Regions from separate parts of the Homo sapiens genome. Here region 1 is linked to region 2. Evidence: fine-mapped expression QTL. A gene starts in region 2. The other region holds a variant in brackets. All regions are shown on one strand. Distances are from middle to middle.

What was found.
Region 1: its variant is fine-mapped to the expression of SECISBP2 in whole blood (TOPMed, PIP above 0.99). The same link has a PIP of 0.9 or more in gastroesophageal junction, testis and tibial nerve.

Annotation. Positions count from the first base shown.
Region 1 is chr9:89,342,059-89,344,984 of GRCh38, forward strand. All of the region lies in intron 10 of SECISBP2 (SECIS binding protein 2), which reads left to right. Among named protein-coding and RNA genes, the nearest start is that of SECISBP2, 25 kb to the left of the region's middle. The variant G/T (reference allele first, on the strand shown) is at 1,389.
Region 2 is chr9:89,317,255-89,320,180 of GRCh38, forward strand. It overlaps SECISBP2 (SECIS binding protein 2), which reads left to right and starts at 1,246. Exons shown (of 17, transcript NM_024077.5): 1 at 1,246-1,358; 2 at 2,398-2,543. The coding sequence starts at 1,323. RefSeq lists an enhancer at 896-1,115 and a silencer at 1,286-1,605.

The sequences.
Region 1 (2,926 bases), 25 kb after region 2:
TTAATATTCAAATATTTAGGAACTCCAGCTGAATAGCAAACAATCCAATTTAAAAATGGGCAAAGGACTGGAAAAGACATTTCTCCAGAAGTACACAAGTGGTCAATAAGTGCGTGAAAAGATACTCAATATCATTAGTCATCAGGGAAATAAATATTAATCAAAAGTACAGTGAAATACTATTTCCCACCTAGTGGGATGATTATAATCCAAAAACAGAAAATAACAGGTGTCAGTGAAGATGTGGAAAAATTGGAACCCCGTACGCTGCCGGTGGGAATGTAAAATGGTGCAGCCATTGTGGAAGACAACCTGGTGGCTACTTAACAATGCTCAATGCAGTTACTACATGACTCAGCGATTTCACTCCTCAGCATTTACCCAAAAGAAGACAGACTTAGACACTTTTACACTGGGGTTTGTTATGGCATTATTCACAATAACCAAACGGTAGAAACAGCGCAAATGTTCATTACCACATAATGGTGTAAACAAATGTGGTATACCTACACAATGTAATATGCAACCTTAAAAAAGGAATGAATTCTTATACATGATACAACATGAAAGAAACCTGAAAACATTATACCATATAAAATTAGCTAGACACAGAAACACAACTACTGTGTGATTCCACCTAAAAGAAATATCTGGAATAGGCAAATTCATAAAAGCATAGATTAGAGGATACCTGGGGCTGAGGGGAAAAGGAATAGTGAGTTATTATTAATGGGGACAGAGTATTCATTGGAGCATTAAAAAGTCTTGAAAATGGATAGTAGTGATGGTTACACAACATTGTGAATATAATTTATGCAGCTGAATTGTGCACTTAAAAACAGTTAAAATGGTACATTTTATGTCATATTACCACAATTAAAACATTTTTAAGTTATTAAAATAGGATGATTTTTAAAAATTGATCTTATTAAAAGATGAGCTTTCCACTTGATATGATGACATTGTGTAGCTGAAAATCTCCTTATCTGTAGAAGTGTCCTGAGTTTCTGAAGATCTTTACTGTCTGGGTGAGGAAGCTGCATTCCATGGAAATGGTTTACTGCCTGTGCATGGGGCACCACTGGGAACAGTGTTGAGTAGTGCTGATGTGGCTGCCTCTTTCCTCTGACACATCTTCTCTTAAGAGCCAAGACAGTTAAAACGCACAATATGTCATAAAAAGCAACATGAAAATTTTCCACCATAGGCTTTTAGATATGTTTCTTCCTTTTGAAGTAGTTTATTATTTCAAAAAACTCTACTTTTTTTTTAAATCTGTGGATCTTCTTTTTTTTAAACTTTTATTTTAGATTCAGGGGTACACATGCAGGTTTGTTATATAGGTAAACTTGTGTCATGGGGGTTTGTTGTACAGATTATTTTGTCAC[G/T]CAGGTACTAAGCCTGGTAACCAATAGTTATTTTTTCTGATATTCTCCTTCCTCCCACCCTCAAGTAGGCCCCAGTGTCTGTTGTTCCCTCCATGTGTCCATGTGTTCTCATCATTTAGCTCCCAATTATAAGTGAGAACATGTGGTATTTGGTTTTCTGTTCCTGCGTTAGTTTGCTAAGGATGGCCTCCAACTCCATCCACGTTCCTACAAAGGACGTGGTCTCATTCTCTTTTATGACTGCATAGTATTCCATGGTGTATATGTACCACATTTTCTTTATCCAGTGTACTGTTGCTGGGCATTTAGGTTGATTTCATGTCTCTGCTATTGTGAATAGTACTGCGGTGAACATTCACATGCATGTGTCTTTATAGTAGAATGATTTATATTCCTTTGGGTATATACCCAGTAATGGGATTGCTGGGTCAAATGGTATTTCTGTTTTTAGGTCTGCTGAATCACCACACTGCTTTCCACAGCGGTTGAACTAATTTACACTCCCAGCAACAGTGTATAAGCGATTCTTTTTCTCCGCAACCTCGCCAGCTTCGTTGTAGCCATTCTGACTGATGTGAGATGGTATCTCATTGTGGTTTTGATTTGCATTTCTCTAATGATTAAGTGATGTTGAGGTTTTTCTCGTATGCTTGTTGGCCACGTGTATGTCTCTTGAAAAGTGTCTGTTCATGTCCTTTGCCCACTTTTTAATGGGGTTTTTTTTCTTGCAAATTTGTTTAAGATCCTTGTAGATGTTGGCTATTAGACCTTTGTCCGATGGATAGATTGCAGAAATTTCTCCCATTCTGTAGGCTGTCTGTTCACTCTGATGATGGTTTGTTTTGCAATGCAGAAGCTCTTTAGTTTAATTAGATCCCATTTGTCAATTTTTGCTTTTGTTGCAGCTTTTGATGTCTTTGTCATGAAATCTTTGTCAGTTCCTGTGTCCAAAATGGTATTGCCTGGGTTGTCTTTCAGTGTTTTTATAGTTCTGGGTTTTACGTTTAAGTCTTTAATCCATCTTGAGTTGATTTTTGTATGTGGTGTAAGGAAGGGGTCCAGTTTCAATTTTCTGCATATGGCTAGCCAGTTATCCCAGCACCATTTATTGAATAGGGAGTCCTTTCCCCATTGCTTGTGTTTGTCAACTTCGTCATTTGTTCCTCGCTTCCTCCTTTACTGCCTTTGGTGTTAAATGTTTTTAGAGTACACTTTTGATTTCTTTGTTGTTTTTTTTAACTTTAGTTTGAAAAACTACCTTCTTAGCAGTTGCTGTAGGGATTACAATATACATGTTAGTTTATATATTGAAGAAACTTTACTCCAGTAGGTCTCCATTTTCTTCCTCCCCCTTTATGCTATTGTCATATGGTACATCTAAATAGATTATAAACCAAACACTGCAGTGTTGGAACTGCTACTTTATACAGCCATATCTTTTAAAGAAGAGAAGGAACAAGGAAAAAATATGTATTTACCAGTTTCATATTTATGATTTTAGGTGTTCTTTATTCCTCTGGATTCAGTTGCCATCTTGT
Region 2 (2,926 bases):
GGGCAATAAATTTTGAAGGTTGTGATTAGCAGCATCCTAAAATCTACTGCCACTACCATAGGTTGTGTCCAGGGTAACCAACAGAAACATGACAAAATCAAGTAAACTTCATTACACTTCCGGGTAGACCCAATAGTGCTGAAAGGAAGGCGACAGCTACCCCTAAACTTCCAGCATAAATTCCTGCCAGACCAGACCCTAAGGATCACTTCTGCTAGAGGCTGTGTAGTGAACTGAGACCCACCAGGACAGAAATCTGAAAAAACTGGAGCTGCACCTGCCTTACTTGCTTGAAATACTTCGTATTCAATGGTAGAGTTAACGTCTGTGCAAGGGACAGAGGAAACCTACAATTTGCCTCAACCTAATCCCCATTCCTCAAATAGCCTGTTTTGCTGACATTTTCTGTTCCTTAAATCCACTTGCACTTTCCTCCAAGCCTTTGAGTGAGAGGAAAGTTCCTCCTCCATCTATTGAAATCCACTCTGCATTCTTCCCTGTACTTTTGGTCAACCTCCTATCCCTGCCGCACTTTATACATTTCTCTCAATATTTAACGAATTTGCTCTGTGTAGAACTTTTTTTTTCTCGTGAAAATTATACTATTCCATCTCTTGACCATATCTTAGCACTTTTTTTAATTTTTGAAAGAAACCGAGCGATTTTTAAATTATTTTCTGTGGCTACTTCCAAACTTAAGGTTTCTGGAAATTTAGGATACCATCAAGAGTCTTGTAGGCTTTCCAGGTTTGTAGGACCTACAGGGTATGCAATTCCTGTAAGTCACCAATCTTGGGGAAATTTTAGGGAAATGCAGTGGCGGGGGTGAGAGTAATCTCGGCCTCCTCAGTTTCCTTATTAGTAAATCTTTCTCTTCAGGTGACTGCTCAAAGGTCACCTCAGCGAGAGGCCTTTCCAGACTACCCCATCCCGTCCTAACGCTAGACTCGTGAGGCCCAGGGGAGAAAAGTAAATCACGGCCTAACTCTTGTTTATAGTCGCTACTGCCTTGGTGGAGACTATCTCCGATATCCCAGCACTAAAAGGCAGATCCAAGACTCCCGCAAGCTACGGTGGGTCCCCAGCCCAGAGGACTCCTGGGGGTCCCCATTTTCCGCAAGCGCCCCACTGCCTCCACGTGCTGCCCGCGCAGGTCCAGTGCCGCCGCCGCGTACTTCCGGCCGGAAGAAAGGGCGGGCTCTGTCGCTTTGCTGTGACGCACTTCCTGGCGTCGCCTGCGGGGGCGGAAACGCTTTGTCTGTCCGGCAAGCCGACGGCCCGCTGCTGGCCTCCGTGACGCGGCCTCCTCCGCGCCTCGCGGCATGGCGTCGGAGGGGCCGCGGGAGCCCGAAAGCGAGGTAAGGGCCGACGGGGGCTCTCTCGGCAGCCTCAGTCCGTCCGCCTGCCTCGCACTGGGGGCTCGGCCGGGCGGTGACGGGGCTGGTCCAGCGGGCGTGGGTCGGATGCTGGTGACGGCACGGGAGCGCCCTACCGGGTGGCCGCGATCTTCGCGCCCCGCCTCGGGTCCGCCTTGGGGTGGCGGTCAGCGGCTACAGACCCCGCCCACAGTTAGCGCCGCGTCTGTGGTGCGATGTCACCCAGCGCAGTGACTGCGGCCCAGCCCGGCGCTCCCCGCAGTCGGGGCGGGGGGACTCTGGCGAGCTTCCCGCGCTCTTGGGAACGGATAGATTGTTTTAAAGGATCCTGCGTTTTTCTGAACGTCATTCTCCGCTCTACGTACTCAGCATTACCACTAGATGGAGCCCTGGCGATCGCTTGCATCATTTTTAGACCCATAAAATTCTCGGTGAAAGTAAATCTCTTACTACGTCACTAAAAACTAAAGAAAGAAATCTTAGTGAATTGAAATTTCAAAGGCTCGTGGTGATAATATTTTCTAGCAAAGCAAGGTTTGGTATTTCAATAAAGCAAGACTTAGTGGTTCATGAGTAAAATGCATATGCTTTTGTGCAACTTTTTCAAGAAAATGTAATGGAAATAAACGTCTGCAGTGTGTTTTGGGTGCTGTAGTTAAACAGTCCACGTGTATTTGACTGCAGTAGTTGTACTGTGTGCAGTTCTATTATTTCTAAGTGAATCTGTGGTAAAAACACCCTTATTCCAAGATCTAAACTATATAATCTGTGTTGTTTTATTTCCACTTGAATTCGTTGTCATTTTTCACTTTTAATGTTTGAACTACTGCCTTTTCTACAAAAAAAAAAGCATTGGGGAGAAATCGTTAGCAAGCAGGTTCTTGTCTTTACGAGGCAGAAGTTTTTAAACAACATCGGGAACATTTCTGGGGCTATTAGGAACACCTCTTGGGTCTTTTTGTTTGTTTATATTTGCTTGATCTCTGAATGTTTGTGGCCAAAACCTCATATTTTTCCTCAGGGCATCAAGTTATCAGCAGATGTCAAACCATTTGTCCCCAGATTTGCCGGGCTCAATGTGGCATGGTTAGAGTCCTCAGAAGCATGTGTCTTCCCCAGCTCTGCAGCCACATACTATCCGTTTGTTCAGGAACCACCAGTGACAGAGTATGTATCTTTCTAAAAGTCTTACCTAGGGGCTTACATTTTGGATTTAATGGTGATTAGACTTTCAAATACTCAGCAGTTACTGCACTAAAGTTCTGCAGATGATGAGAGAATGCTCTTCAACCAAGAAGAGTCTGAGCCAGTAGCACAACTTAACTGTATCCTGTGCCAAAAACAGAAGCTTTAACTCCCCTTTTTTTTCTTCATACTCATTGTTATTTTCGGCAAAGAAATAGTAGAGACTGCATTGCATTTGTTAATAAGAAATGCAGTTTCAGGCCAGGCGCTGTGGCTCACGCCTGTAATCCCAGCACTTTGGGAGGCCGAGGTGGGTGGATCACCTGAGGTCAGGAGTTCAAGACCAGTGTGACCAACATGGTGAA